Regions from separate parts of the Homo sapiens genome. Here region 2 is linked to region 1. A link means that fine-mapping ties the variant in region 1 to the expression of a gene that starts in the linked region. Tissue or cell type: whole blood. Region 1 holds a variant in brackets; the other region holds the start of a gene. All regions are shown on one strand. Distances are from middle to middle.

The links. PIP is the estimated chance that this variant, and not a neighbour inherited with it, causes the effect.
Region 2: it holds the start of FANCG, and the variant in region 1 is fine-mapped to the expression of FANCG in whole blood (TOPMed, PIP above 0.99).

Annotation. Positions count from the first base shown.
Region 1 is chr9:34,781,133-34,789,235 of GRCh38, reverse strand. It overlaps a transcript of PHF24 not described here. Among named protein-coding and RNA genes, the nearest start is that of SPATA31F1, 56 kb to the right of the region's middle. The variant G/A (reference allele first, on the strand shown) is at 4,199.
Region 2 is chr9:35,075,857-35,083,952 of GRCh38, reverse strand. It overlaps FANCG (FA complementation group G), which reads left to right and starts at 4,011. Exons shown (of 14, transcript NM_004629.2): 1 at 4,011-4,512; 2 at 4,712-4,802; 3 at 5,217-5,348; 4 at 5,610-5,812; 5 at 6,554-6,689; 6 at 6,852-6,982; 7 at 7,083-7,229; 8 at 7,370-7,521; 9 at 7,925-7,991. The coding sequence starts at 4,429. RefSeq lists enhancers at 2,559-3,165, 4,382-4,989 and a silencer at 4,141-4,306.

The sequences.
Region 1 (8,103 bases):
AGAGTTCTGCATTAGGTTTTCACGGTATCAGAGTTTGAAGTTCCCACCTCTGTCTTAAGTCTCTACCTTTTTTCTCTGTCTAGTTTTTCCACTACTGCCTTAAGTCCCTGCCTTTATCCCCACCTAGCTCCCATCCAGGCCTGTGGGAGCCTCCCTTACTGTTAGTTGGTCTGCGTGCGTGGGCCCGGTGTTGGATATGAATTTCACCTGCATCGCTCATTACTGCCACCTCAGAAATGTTGTAGAGTGGTCACATCTATACTTAATGCACCAGTGTATATCTTAGGACATTTTTCCCCTTGCTCTCTTCCCCTCCTTATCAGCATGTAGCTAGCTACATTCTGACAGGTTAACTGCAGAGTGAGCGATTACTGGGCATCTTAAGGTAGCATTTCAGAGTGTTCCTTTCTGCATAGCTATTTCCCCTCCTCTCTGCTCATACCTAGTATGCATGTTTGGGGTGGTCTCTGGCGTGTGAGATTTTCTAGACCTCCCTTTCCTCAGGGGCTCACCCTCCTGCTCATGTCTGGCTATCTGCCTACTCTAACAATGGGAGCACACCGCTAAACTATACTAACTGAAGCTAGTAGTAGGGGAAGTTTGTGTGGGTGCTTGGATGTTGGCTTCTTTTGCTATCAGTAAATACAATGGCCATGTGTATTTGGTATCTTGGCCAGCCTTTTTAAGAACAAATCCTAGTATCCTTGAAAAGAAGACAATTCATAAAGCTGGTATTTCACCAGCATTACTGTAGCTCAGAGGGAGGTTTTCCCTTCCTGTGTAGGAGAGTACAGGGAGTTCTATTTTGAAAGGTCTCTATACTTCTCCAGGCCCTCGTGCCCAATTTTGTTTGAGAGTCGTGGATTTTGCAAATGTTAAAAACAGTTACTGCTGGCTGGGTGCAGTGACTCACACCTATAATCCCAGCACCTTGGGAGGCTGAGATGGAAGGATCACTTGAGCTTAGGAGTTCAAGACCAGACTGGGCAACATAGCAAGACCTTGTCTCTACTAAAAATAAAAATAAAAAATTAGCCAGGCTCAGTGGTGCACACCTGTAGTCCCAGCTACTCAGGAGGCTGCGGCAGGAGGATTGCTTGAGCCTGGGAAACCAAGGCTGCAGTGAGCCATGATCACACCACTGCACTCCAGCCTGGGCAACAGAGGGAGACCCTGTCTCAAAAAAACAAAACAAAACAAAACAGTTGCTTCTGAGTGATGGGATTTGGGGTGATTTTCTTGTTACATTATTCAAGTCTATATTCTATTATTAATTTTTGTAATAAGTATATATAATTTTACAGAAAACAATAAAGAAATTATCTAAACTAAGGGAGGAAATGGTAAACAGGTGGAATATTACCAAGGGGGAAAATTGTTATTGGATTGCTTGGCACAGAGGTCATTTTTGAACCTTATGAGAGCCATCGCTTCTGGAAGAGTGGGTTGAGGAGTAAATGGAAGGAAAGGATAAGGCACATGACTAAGGCAAATGCTTCTCAACCCCTATTGCATCCCTGAGAATCACACATTAAATCATATTTCTGGGCCCCATCTTGCAGATGTTCAATTCAGTTGGTCTGGGGTGGAGCAGATCACTGGCTTTTCTACAGCCTCAATCAATGTCTGAAGAAATAGCTGCCCTTACCTTCATAACATAAAGACTTACACTTTTCTTTCTCTTAGGATGGAATGAGATGGAAACCTTAGTCCTTTCAAGATAACCCTGAAAAAGTTAATTTTATGTTCTATAGGCTGAGGGTTTGGCTTCTTGCCCTCGTTTCCAGCTTCCACCAATATCTTCCCAGGCTGGCTTCTTGCCTAGATACATCTCAAATTGGGATGCAGTTTCCCAATCTAGTTCTCACCCTTCTGACACTGAACAGGTTTATGAATCTTTTTTTTTTTAATTTTAAAAATTAAAAAATGTTTAAAGATGCCAACAAGGTCAACTAGGCCAGCTCCTCTCCATGTCCCTGATCTTGTTTGAAAAATTTATTAGTTTCTTTGTCCTGCTCAAACATGAGTTCCCTGATGGCTAAATTCCATAAGATAACTATCATACCATTATTAGAAATCTTCATAAATACCGGGTGTAAATGTCCCTGATTTTTTGAAAATGTATTTGGGTCCCCTTTGCTTCCTTCCAGCCCCTTTCCTGACGTATCTCTTGATTTTGCTCTGGAGGTGAGCGCTGGCCACAAAGTCCTGCACTCTCTTTATTTAACACACTAGGCCCACAGGATTCTGGGTGCCTCCTTCAGTGAAGAGGCTTCAGCACTCTGGCCTTCTGTTGGAAATCCTGTAAGGGTAAGGAACAAGAGATGGTAAACCGTTTCAGGAGATAAAACACCAAATGGTGTGTCTGATCTCAGGTTCCCTCTGTTTTACCAAAAAACGAGTCAACCGGGTTATCCCCTGATCCAAGAGACCTGAAGCATGAGTCTCAGCAGCTCTTAGGTACACTGAGAAACCTGCACAAACCAGTGGCTCCTCCCAGACACTGAGAAATTAAACCTCAGGCTTGCGTCAAGCCCTCAACATTTTAGGAAAATGACCAACAAGTTTTCTCCTCTATTTATATGTGGAAATGTTCATTTCACTTGCAAAAGAGAAGACCAAAATGTCATTTTTATGATTATGATGTTATAACAGAAATGTAGGAGTGTGAAATTTATAATGTTATAGACCAATTTAGTATGAAATGCAAATATCACGGCAGAGTGGGCTGGCTACTCAAATCTCAGCTGAAATGCTCTGAAAGAGTCCCCATGGCTAGCTAGTTCAGCTGACTAAAGGGCCCCAGTGTCCTGGAGAAGAAAATAAAGAGGGGATATAGTTGGGGGAATGAAGGCAGTTTAAACTTTGTGAAGCTTCCTTAGCTCTTCTCAGGAGACTGTTCATGGATTTGAATATTTATAGTAGAGAATTCTTCCTCTGTAGTATGTGTACTTGATAATTAATTTAATAAATATAATTTTGGATAATACAGACCTTTCCTTATGGTGACTGTGATAGCTTGAAGACATTTAATAACCTGCAAATCTTACTGCTTCAATCCTCTGCTCAAAGTCCTCCAAAGGACCCCAGTGCCAATCATTCATCACCCATTGGTTTGATCATCTTATTCCTTGACTTTCTAGCAATTATGTATTGGATAACAGGCCCTGTGCTAGAGGTTGGAGATATGGCAGTAAAGAAAATAGGCATGGGAATCCCAGAATTCTTAGAGCTCATATCTTGTATGAGGACAGAAATTAAGCTAGTAATTTTAACATTGTAACGCTATGCAGATCTGTATTTTTCCTTGATATCTCATACACAATTATGTTTCCAATATCTAATTATGTTCCCCTGCAGCCATTCCACCAATGTAGTCCCAGGAAATGGGAATGATGAATGTCTCTTTAGAAAGAAACATGATAAAAGGGAAACCCTCTCCAGAAAGGAAGACAAAGTAAAAGGAAGCACATTTTATTAAAGGCTAAAGTATAAAGGTGGAAGGATGCAATAAAAATCTTCAGGTAGGGAGGATGGTGACCTGACACCCTAAGAACTTGGTGGCAGACTATAAGCCTAGAAGCTCCATACTTGATACGGGGGTGTGTATTACTTCCTGTACCTATTGAAACAAATTACCACAAACTTAGTGGCTTGGAAAAACACAAACTTATTCCCTTACAGCCTTGCATTCTTAGGTTATTCTTCAGTTACACAGAGACTTCAGAGGAGAACATCTATTCCAAGTTGTATAAAAATTAATACTTTGGTAGTCTAAAATGTGTTTTAAAAAATTGGTAGATGCTATGGTTTGAATGGTTCCCCTCCAAAATTCATGTGTTGCAACTTAATCCCCGTTATGGTGGTATTAAGAGTTTCGGACCCTTTGGGAAGTGATTAAGTCATGAAGGCTCTCCCTCATGAACGGATTAATGCCCTTACAGAAGAGCCTTCAGAGAGAGTTTGTCTCTTTTTATTCATCTGCCTTCACCTATGTGAGGACACAGCATTTGTCCCTTCTGGAGCACACAGCAAGATGCCATCTTGGATACAGAAAGAACAGCAAACAACAAACACCGCCAAACAGACACCAAACCTGCCAGCACCTTGATTTTAGATCTCCCAGCCTTCAGAACTGTAAGAAATACATCTCTCTTATTTATAAATTACCCAGTCTGTGGCATCTTGTTACAGGAAC[G/A]CAAGCAGACTAAGATAGTAGAGGACACATTTAAGTTTGTGTGCTGCTGTGTATTCACATTTTTAAAAGCTAAAACACATTTCAAAATTAAATTAAAACCAAACACTTGTGAAACAGCTGAAATATTTTAGCTAAATTTTACAGAAGACCACATTAGAAAAAACTGGTTGACTCAATATAAATGATCCTTAGTGTAATTCAATTTCTAGTATTCTCGTATGTCTACAAAATTGGTCTTAGTCCTTTCACTATCTTGAAACTAAGAAAACATATGTCTTACAAGGAGGATATTTGCACTTAATAATCACTGAAAAGTTGGGCAGCATTCATGTGGTCTCATCATATTTGTCTTCTTTGCCACCTGTTAAAGATCTGGAGCACAAAAGCAGGACAGTGGAAATCGTCAGATAAGTTTATGTTAAGAAATAGCTGTGTATAATACTGTCCTGGTCATGGAAAATTAAAGGTCAGAAAACAGACACTTTCAGACTATGCATGTGAACTATGTGTTAACAGTGCTGTCTCCCTGCACCTACCATACCATCTTATGGTACCGTTTGAGGCTGAACATAATTCAAATTGGAATAGGATAAGGATTTCCTTCACTCCTTACAAGATAAAAAGGTCATAGTACATTTAAAAATATTTTCCCCAGATATATTATGCAAATTCTGAAATGGTAGAATAAGCAATCATTTCCTACTCCCTGAAGCATGAACTCCTAGTTGAGAACATCACTAACAAGTTGAAAGCATACCTGCCCACGCATGTCTTATGCACTTTCACTTGTGCACATACAAAACCATATAACTCCTTGTACAAGAAAACTTAATTACTAGGCAAGACGCCTCCACCAGCTCTAGCAGCAAGCCTATTTATGGAAACTCTTCCTTAGAGAATATCTTATATCAAAATGATATTGCCAGCCAGCCATGCAGGGAGATTACCTACAGAAGCTACTCTGGCACTGACTCGAGCACAGAGGAAATAGCTGTCAAACCCACTAGCTGCTGGCTTCTTGGAGGCAGTGTTTAAAAACTATCTCAAAGTCTATGCTAAAAAATATAGAGCAGAAATTTCAGCAAGTAGATGGAGAGTTTTACTGGTCTAAGAAAAGTTTTAATGATACCTAAAAATTACAAATGGGCTAGAACAGGAAAGGCAACATTATACATCAATTAAAAAGTTAAACTGGAGTTCAGGTTGTATTCCAGAAACCGCTATTCACTTTATTTGATATTCTTTATAAGGGAAGCTTGAGGTTATTAAGTCACTGCCCTCCCAATGCAGTATTACATTTTCTGTAATCTGTAGGAAATAATATCAGGAAACTGATCAAATTCCAAGTCCCTAAATATTACCAGAACAACTTATTGATAAGAAAAAGATTATTTTATTTCTTACAGTGATAAGGGAGACATAATATGGTAGTTTCTTGGAGGAGAATGAACAAGATTTGATTTATTCAGATTTTGAAGTCTAGTTTAAGGCAGGTCTGTCAGAGCAGGGGTGAGTGCAATAGAGAGGGCTTAATTAGGATAGGGTAAGGGCTATGATAGAATATTAGGATTGGTGAAAAAAGAAAAGAGGTCGTTTTGAAGCCAGGAGCACAAAGTCTTGGGATGTGAAGACAATTGAAATTAAAGTCATGTTAACGTAGATAGTAAGCTGTGTAGGAGTAAATGGTTTCAGTTCTCAATATTAAGAGTCCGGAGAAGAGAGGATGGATTTTAATAAGTTATCGGGCCCTTTCATGAAATCCATGTGGATAAGATGGCGCAGTGTAACTTGCTTCCTTTCACGCTTATGACTAAACCTGGTGGTCCTGGTTGAAGCATCAGCCAAGTATATCACTGTCAGGATTTAAGTTCTAAGGACTGAACTGGGATGGGGCAGCAAGGAGCAGGAAGATCCAAAGTGAATTTAAACAGAATTCTTAAGCAAAGCTGAGAGTCAAGCTGAAAAATGAGGATCAATTGGGAATTCTGGAGGCAAGAGCAATGCTACAAATAAGAAAAGAGATAGGTCAGAAACAGGTCAGAAACAAAACGCAACCTAGATGAACACAGTTTGCAGCTAAATCAGGAAGGGCTTAGATGGATGTTTTCTGGGATTGGAGTTCAAGTATTTGAGGCTTTTCTGATGCCTGGTGCTTGGATAAGTCAGACTAGCTTAAAGATATAGGTTTGGAGCAGGGATCCATCCCTCATCCTACCCCATCCCCAAACCCTACCACTGCTATGTAGGCCTCTCCCAATCAAACAGTAGGTTGGGTGTGGAGCTTTCTCAAGTTTGTTTTGCATAAGACTTGGCATGTTTGAGAAGCTCTTCCAAACATGGAAGAAGAGCTACTTCCCATGAATTCATAAATGCCTCTCTAAGTCAGACCCTTACCTCTGCCTCAGGGATTGGAGTAGTCTATATCGCTGTTGGAAGTCTAGTACTTCCACTTCATGCTCTTGCTCTCTACCTCTAGTGACAGGATGAGTCACTGGACTGGAAGGCAGATTGGATCTGTATTTTTAGCCATATGGCATTCAAATATCTCTGTGACCTTGAATCAGTCCAAGAAATAATCCTCAACTTTTCATAAGCGGGGTATGGGATTTGGTGGGGTGAGGGAGGCAAACTGCTAGAGAATAGAGGAGCTGTGGATGGAGTGAACTAATGAATTGTTGAGAGATGTGTGTCTACCAGAAAACAAACCACGAGTGGTTATTATTATACGAAATTGCTGAGAAATCCTCCCCTGTCCCTCCTCTACCCTACTTACCCCAAAATCACTGAGTCTTGCTCTCATTTTTCAGGCCTCTGACATGTGACCATCCACTGATTTGCTAACTGCCTCTGTGATCTCCACTAATAATTATCCACTGAGCACTTCAGTGAGTTTTGTAACCCAGCTCTCGTGCAAGTTGGAGGACTTCATTTACTCCCTCAGTTTCATCATTCCTCCTTCTTCAGGAAAGAATCTCACATTCCAGAGCTAGCTCATGTACCCTGCTTCCTGTCCCATTATGGGTGGAGATTTGGACATTTTTGCCTAGAACCCATGATTTCAGGAGGTTCTTCTCTCCCATGTGGGGACAATGAATGTAATTTCAGCCCTTCTATTCTTACTGTGCCTGGGAAATGTCACATTAATAATAGAAATAATACAGAGTTTTGCAGATAACTGCTGTACTTACCAACCTATTGATTGCAAGAGTGGAATTCACTGGCACATGCATTGTTGCTGCTTTCTCCCCCTACAGAAAATGATGGGGTTGAACTAACACATTTCCCAACTACTTCCTACAATGCTTTTTTTTTTTTCCCTAACAGCCTTACTGAGATATAATCCACATACCATAACTTCAGCCATTTAAAGTGTACAATTCAAGGGGTTTTGCTCTATTATTCATTATTTTAAGTTGTGGTGATGATAGATAACATAAAATGTGCCATTTTAACCATTTTTAAATGTATAATTCGGTAATGTTAGTTACATTCACAATGTTGTACAACCGTCACATTATCTATTTCCAAGACTTTTTCACCAACCCAAACAAAAACTCTGTTTCCTTTAAGCAATAATTCCCCGCTCTCCTTGCCTCCAAACCATTAGGTTATCTATTCTACTTTCTGTCTCTATGAATTTGCCTATTACAGGTCCCTCATTCAAATGAAATCATATAATATTTGTCCTTTTTGTTTGACTTATTTCACTTAGTGTAATATTTTCAAGGTTCAGAACTTCATTTTTTATGATTGGATATTTTATTATATCTATATACCACATGTTGTTTACTTATTCATCTGTTAATGGACCTTGGGGTGTTTCTATCTTCTGGTTATTGTTGAATTATGCTGTTATAAACATTTATGCACAAATATCTGTTTGAATTCCTGTTTTCGGTTAGTTT
Region 2 (8,096 bases), 290 kb before region 1:
GGTCTCCTGCCCTCTGGTGATCCGCCCACCTCAGTCCCCCAAAGTGCTGGGATTACAGGCATGAGCCTGGCCTGTTTTCAATCTTTTTTTTTTTTTTTTTTTTTTTTTTGAGACAGTCTTGCTCTGTCGCCCAGGCTGGAGTGCAGTGGCGCGATCTCGGCTCACTGCAACCTCAGCCTCCTGGGTTCAAGGGATTCTACTGCCTCGGCCTCCCGAGTAGCTGGGATTACAGGTGTGCACCACGACGCCTGGCTAATTTTTGTATTTTTAGTAGAGACGGGGTTTCACCATGTTGGCCAGGATGGTCTCAATCTCTTGACCTCGTGATCCGCCCACCTTGGCCTCCCAAAGAGCTAGGATTACAGGCATGAGCCACTGTACCCAGCCTGTTTTCAATCTTTATAAGTTTGTAATCCTAGCACTTTGGAAGGCCGAGGCCAGTGGATTGCCTGAGCTCAGGAGTTCGAGACCAGCCTGGGCAACATGGTGAAACCCCGTCTCTACTAAAATACAAAAAAGTTAGCTGGGCGTGGTGGTGTGCACCTGTAATCCCAGTTACTCGGGAGGCTGAGGTAGGAGAATTGCTTGAACCCAGGAGGCGGAGGTTGCAGTGAGCCGAGATTGCGCCACTGCACTCCAGCCCGGGCAACAGAGCGAGACTCCGTCTCAAAAAAAAAAAAGTTTGTTGGTGCACTCTTTTGCCCCTTTTCATTGCTAAATCATTGGCTTTGACCAACTGATGGACATTTTGATTGTTTTCAGTTTTTAGCTATTATGAACATTTTTAGCTACTATGAGTATTTGCAACAAATCTCAGTGTGGACGTATGTTTTCATTTCTCTTGGGAGTATTCTTTGGAGTGGAATTGCTGAGTCTTATGGTAAATTTGTGATTGACTTTTTTTTCTTTTTTTTTTTTTGAGATGGAGTCTTGCTCTGTCACCCAGGCTGGAGTGCAGTGGCGGGGTCTTGGCTCACTGCAAGCTCCACTTCCTGGGTTCACGCCATTCTCCTGCCTCAGCCTCTTGAGTAGCTGGGACTACAGGTGCCCGCCACCACGCCTGGCTAATTTTTTGTATTTTTAGTAGAGACGGGGTTTCACTGTGTTAGCCAGGATGGTCTCGATCTACTGACATCGTGATTCACCTGCCTTGGCCTCCCAAAGTGCTGGGATTACAGGAATAAGCCACTGCGCCCGGCCTATGATTAACTTTTTAAGAAACTGCCAAACTTTTCTGAAGTGAGTGTACTATTTTATATTCCCACCAGCAGTGTATGAGGGTTCCTCATACACATCCTCACCAACACTTGGTATAATCTGTTTTTATTGTAGTCATTTTATGTATGTATGTGTATAGTGTTTTTATTTTTATTTATTTATTTTTGAGACAGAGTCTCACTCTGTCACCCAGGCTGGAGTGCAGTGGCATGGTCTCAGCTCACTGCAACCTCCGTTTCCCAGGTTCAAGTGATTGTCATGCCTCAGCCTCCTGAGTAGCTGGGATTACAGGTGTCTGCCACCATGCCCAGCTAATTTTTGTATTTGCAGTAGAGACAGGGTTTTGCCCTGTTGGCTTGGCTGGTCTCAAACTCCTGGCCTCAAGTGATCCACCTGCCTCAGCCTCCCAAAGTGCTGGGATTAAAGGTGTGAGCCACCACGCCCGGCTGTGTGAAGCGTTTTTTTATTTTTTGAGACGAAGTCTCGCTGTGTCACCTAGGCTAGAGTTCAGTGGCAGGATCTCGGCTCACTGCAACCTCCACCTTCCGGGTTCAAGCCATTCTCCCACCTCAGCTTCCCAGGTAGCTGGGATTACAGGCATGCACCACCATGCCTGCCTAATTTTTGTATTTTTAGTAGAGACGAGGTTTCACCAAGTTGGCCATGCTGGTCTTGAACTCCTGACCTCAAGTGATCCATCCACCTCAGCCTCCCAAAGTGCTGGGATTACAGGCATAACATGGCCCGGCCCTGGCCATGTTTTTAACTGTGTTTCTCTAATAGCTAATAATGCCGAGCATCTTTTTATGTGTTTCTTAGCCATTAGTAGATCTTTTTTGGTAAAATGTCTTTTTTTTTTTTTTTGGTCCATCTTAAAATTGTTTTTTGTTTTGTTTTGAGACAGGGTCTCACTTTGTTGCCCACGCTGGAGTGCAGTGGCTCAATCATGGCTCACTGCAGCTTCGACATCCCTGAGCTCAGGTGATCCTCCCACCTAAGTTTCCCGAGTAGATGGGACTACAGGTGTGTGCCACCATGCCCAGCTAATTTTTGTATTTTTTTTGTAGAGGTGGGGTTTTGCTATGTTGCCCAGGCAGGTCTTAAACTTCTGAGGCTCAAATGATCCTCCCACCTCAGCCTCCCAAAGTGCTGGGATAACAGGCATGAACCACCACACCCAGCTAAGATTGTTTTTAAAAATCTTTTTCTTGAGTTTTGGGAGTTTTTATGTGTTAGGGATACCAGTCCCTTATGAGGTATATAATTAGCAAGTAGTTTCTCCCACTCTGTGACTGTGACCTTTCTTTTTTTGAGGCAGGGTCTCACTCTGTTACTCAGGCTGGAGGGCAGTGGTGTGATCATGGCTCACTGCAACCTGGAACTCCTAGGCTCAAGGGCTCCTCCCACCTCAGCCTCCCAAGTAGCTGGGTCTACAGGTGTGTTATTGTGCCAGGGTTAATGTTTTAAATTTTTTGTAGAGATAATGTCTCTACAAAAGACACCATCTTTGTTGCCTAGGCTGGTCTTGAACTCCTGGCTTCAGGGAATCCTCCAGCCTCAGCCTCCCAAAGTGCTGGGATTACAGCATGAGCCACATCCAGCCTATGATTTTTCTTCTTTTCTTTTCTTTTCTTTTCTTTTTTTTTTGAGATGGAGTCTCGCTGTTGCGCAGGCTGGAGTGCAGTGGGGCGATCTCGGCTCACTGCAGGCTCTGGCCCGCGGGGTTCACGCCTTTCTCCTGCCTCAGCCTCCCGAGTAGCTGGGACTACAGGCGCCCGCCACATCGCCCGGCTAATTTTTTGTATTTTTAGTAGAGACGGGGTTTCACCGTGTTAGCCATGATGGTCTCGATCTCCTGACCTCGTGATCCGCCCGCCTCGGTCTCCCAAAGTGCTGGGATCACAGGCGTGAGCCACGGCGCCCGGCCCCAGCGTATGACTTCTTAATGATGTCTTTGTAGTACAAGAGTTTTTAATTTTAATAAAGTTAACTTTTTTTTAAATTGTACAAGCTTTTAGTGCTGTGTCTAACAACTTGTTGCCAAACCCAAGGTCATAAAGCTGTTCTCTTACGTTTTCTTTTTTTTTTTTTTTTGAGACGGAGTCTCACTCTGTCACCCAGGCTGGAGTGCAATGGCACGATGTCGGCTCACTGCAACCTCCGCCACCCGGGTTCAAGCGATTCTTCCGCCTCAGCCTCCGGGGTAGCTGGGATTACAGGCGCACGACACCACGCCCTGCTAATTTTTGTATTTTTGTAGAGAAGGTTTCACCATGTTAGTTAGGCTGCTTTACGTTTTCTTTTAGAAGTTTTATATTTTTGGCTCTTATATTTAGTTTGTGATCCATTGAGTTGATTTTATGTACGTATGTATGGTCGCGTTCTTTTCTTTCCTGTCTTTTTTTTTTTTTTTTTTTGCATATGGATATTCAATTCTCCTAGCTCCATTTAATTTGAAATGATTGGGCAGGTACTTTTGAGCAGTGCAAGTACAGAGCGGCACTGCCAGCAGACTACACGCGGTAGAAAGCCGACCTTGGTGAGCGTGTTGGTGCTCGACAGTGAGCAGAGAAAGGATGGACGATTACGGAGCGCCCTCGTCTCCAGTTACCGCTTTCTGGAAACACCATCCGCCGGGGCGGAGCTGTTCCGCCCCGGTGCGGTACTACGACTCCCAGCATGCACCTCGCAGTCGGCCCTCGGTGGAAGCGGGAACCCAGGAGGACCTGGGGGTGTGGCAGCGAGGAAGGGCCGAGCCACGGACTGTGGGGCCGAAACTCGCTCCCGCCCACCCTTTCTCGAGGCTGTGGCCTCCGCGAGAGCCGAGCGGGCCGCACCGCCGGCCGTGCGACTGCCCCAGTCAGACACGACCCCGGCTTCTAGCCCGCCTAAGCCTGTTTGGGGTTGCTGACTCGTTTCCTCCCCGAGTTTCCCGCGGGAACTAACTCTTCAAGAGGACCAACCGCAGCCCAGAGCTTCGCAGACCCGGCCAACCAGAGGCGAGGTTGAGAGCCCGGCGGGCCGCGGGGAGAGAGCGTCCCATCTGTCCTGGAAAGCCTGGGCGGGTGGATTGGGACCCCGAGAGAAGCAGGGGAGCTCGGCGGGGTGCAGAAGTGCCCAGGCCCCTCCCCGCTGGGGTTGGGAGCTTGGGCAGGCCAGCTTCACCCTTCCTAAGTCCGCTTCTGGTCTCCGGGCCCAGCCTCGGCCACCATGTCCCGCCAGACCACCTCTGTGGGCTCCAGCTGCCTGGACCTGTGGAGGGAAAAGAATGACCGGCTCGTTCGACAGGCCAAGGTAACACGGTTGCTGGCACCCTCGGTTTGCAGCCTCAAGATCCCTGAAAGCGGGTTTGCAGTGGATTTACCCCAACCGATGGGGAGGGACTGAGCTTGACCAAAGAGCCAGAAATGACTGGAGAATGCATCCCTTGCCACTGCTGCAAGGGGAGAAAAAAGGATTGATCCTCAGTGACAACCCCTCCCTCATGTGGCAGGTGGCTCAGAACTCCGGTCTGACTCTGAGGCGACAGCAGTTGGCTCAGGATGCACTGGAAGGGCTCAGAGGGCTCCTCCATAGTCTGCAAGGTAGGCGGGTCCTCCCCAGGATGGTCAGTTCCCCTCTTCCATAGCCAGAGAAACATCCGCTCCTGCGTTTTTGGGATCGATATAATTACTCGGGGCAGGGAGTCCTGTTTAAGGCACAGAGGAGACTGGAGTGGAATCATCTTTGTACAGGCAAATCCCTCTCTTCCTTACACACTCACAGAGTGGCATTTGAAAAATGGTTTCCAAGATGGTCTGATCTGGATAACTTTTTTGCCCTTTCCAGACTCTCTGTCCAAAGGTTGGGTTCTTTTTTTAAATCCTTAGCTAATTGGCTGGAGGGTGGGTTCTTTATTGTAGCTGTTTTGGTTGGAGTGGGGTGATCTCTGAGTTGGGATTTTATTTGGAGGATCTTCCATGGGGGAGCAGTCTGTAAGACCAACATTGTTGCTCCAGGGCTCCCTGCAGCTGTTCCTGTTCTTCCCTTGGAGCTGACTGTCACCTGCAACTTCATTATCCTGAGGGCAAGCTTGGCCCAGGGTTTCACAGAGGATCAGGCCCAGGATATCCAGCGGAGCCTAGAGAGAGGTGAGGGCCAGAGATTGTCCCTGATTCCCCTGCCATCTTCAGTCTGGGTTTAAGTTATTGCAGGGAGATGGGAGGATAAACAACATCTGTCACCTCCATGGAGAGAGGTGCCCTTCTCTGTGCTCTTCAGACCAGGTTGAGGTATTATTATTGTGACCTTTGGGGTCCTGCAGGAGAGGAAAGCCAGAGTGTGTGGGGAGATGGAGGATGAGGTGCTACTTCAGCTGTGTGTGTGTCTATGTGTGTGTGTATACTCTACAGTGCTGGAGACACAGGAGCAGCAGGGGCCCAGGTTGGAACAGGGGCTCAGGGAGCTGTGGGACTCTGTCCTTCGTGCTTCCTGCCTTCTGCCGGAGCTGCTGTCTGCCCTGCACCGCCTGGTTGGCCTGCAGGCTGCCCTCTGGTTGAGTGCTGACCGTCTTGGGGACCTGGCCTTGTTACTAGAGACCCTGAATGGCAGCCAGGTAATAGGGAAAGTGACCTGAAGCTGAGGGTCTCCTCCTTCCTTCCTCCTCCTTTCTCTCCAGCTGCAGTAGCATCATCATGTACTGGACAGGCGGCTGGGTTGGTGGTCGGAAAACCTGGATTCTCTCTGGGACTCTTGGGTGACCTTGCCCTGGTTGGTCTCTCATTGTGGGGATTCTCTTAGGAGTGTTTTTTAAAAATTGGACAGGCATGGTGGCTCATACCTGTAATCTCAGCACTTTGGGAGGCTGAGGTAGGAGGATCACTTGAACCCAAGAGGTGGAGGCAACAGTGAGTTGTGAGCTATGATCACGCCACTGCACTCCAGCCCTGCAGCCTGGGTGACAGAGGGAGACCCTGTCTCAAAAAAAAAAAAAATTTTTTTTTGGATAGGGATAGGGCTCTTGTGATCTTGCTCAAGTCAGCTCTCAGCCTTAGTCTCCTTATTAGTAACTCAAATATGGTCCTTGCCCTGAGTGAGGAGGCACGCTGGAATAGATCATCACTGCCCCAGGTTTTTCTTCCTTTTTTTTAATTCTTGCCTCATAGCTATCTATCTCTTAGAATTGGGGGAAACTACAGGCATTATGCATAGCTTCTTGCTTTGTAAGGGTAGCTGAGGCCTGTGTCCTCAAGGATCAAGAGGACCCTTGAGCTCAAGGTCTAGCCAGGATAGATGGAGATAGGAGAAGACGAGGAGGTTGTAGGCTTGGAGCTTCTGGTTGTCCTTCTTTCCCCAGAGTGGAGCCTCTAAGGATCTGCTGTTACTTCTGAAAACTTGGAGTCCCCCAGCTGAGGAATTAGATGCTCCATTGACCCTGCAGGATGCCCAGGGATTGAAGGATGTCCTCCTGACAGCATTTGCCTACCGCCAAGGTCAGCTAGCAACCTGACTCATCTCTTCTACCTTTAAGTGGTCCTCCAGACTCATGCCCTCTCTCTTGTCCCATTCAGTTCCATGGGCTTCTTAGACCCTTGTTCCCCATCATGACCCCTGCTCTATAGCCCTCTCCAAGCTCACACCCTGACTGTCCTCAGGTCTCCAGGAGCTGATCACAGGGAACCCAGACAAGGCACTAAGCAGCCTTCATGAAGCGGCCTCAGGCCTGTGTCCACGGCCTGTGTTGGTCCAGGTGTACACAGCACTGGGGTCCTGTCACCGTAAGATGGTAAAGACAGTCCTAGGGTGGATTGGGGAAACCACAAGCATTATGTATAGCTTTTTGCTTTGTAAGGGTAGCTGAGGCCCGTGTCCTCCTATCCCTTTAGGGAAATCCACAGAGAGCACTGTTGTACTTGGTTGCAGCCCTGAAAGAGGGATCAGCCTGGGGTCCTCCACTTCTGGAGGCCTCTAGGCTCTATCAGCAACTGGGGGACACAACAGCAGAGCTGGAGAGTCTGGAGCTGCTAGTTGAGGTAGGGAACTGCCAGGTGAAGATGTGGGGTGGAGGATTCCTGAGGTGCTTGTGATGGGGTGACTTGACTAGTCAAGATCCAAGTATAAGGAAGTATGGCTCCCAAAGATTATAGATACAATTTTTTTCTTTCTCTTTTAGGCCTTGAATGTCCCATGCAGTTCCAAAGCCCCGCAGTTTCTCATTGAGGTAGAATTACTACTGCCACCACCTGACCTAGCCTCACCCCTTCATTGTGGCACTCAGAGCCAGACCAAGCACATACTAGCAAGCAGGTGCCTACAGACGGGGAGGTGAGGTTCCCCTTGCTCACCTGAGCTTCTCTTCCCACTTCTGATGCCTCCCCTGGGGTGTGACTCTGCTTTTGTTCTTGTGACTTGGGGGATGAATGAGGCAGTGGCAGGACATAGGTCGCCACTCCTCAGCCTCTTACCTTGCTTCTAGACCTGAACTGAGGACTCTTCTCTAAGACATTAACCTTCTCTATCTTTGACACTCTGAAGTCTCTTCCCCAGTCCATTCTGTAACTGGGGTAGATCCATACTGAGCCAAAATTGGAGCCCTAAGACCTTCCCTCCCTTTCTCCTCCTCAGGGCCCATGAACATCCATCTGTTAGCTAAGAGAGAACATTCTCAGGACCCTTGCAGGTTCCCTGCTAGGGCCTAGGGTGAGGCTTATGGGCTTTTACTCCTCAGGGCAGGAGACGCTGCAGAGCATTACTTGGACCTGCTGGCCCTGTTGCTGGATAGCTCGGAGCCAAGGGTGGGTGTGTCTTCAAGCTTCTCTGCAATGGGGTAGACGGGTTGGTGTCCCCTTTGAAATACAGCAAGACTGCAATTTTTTGTTTTTTCCTCTATTCTGTCTGTC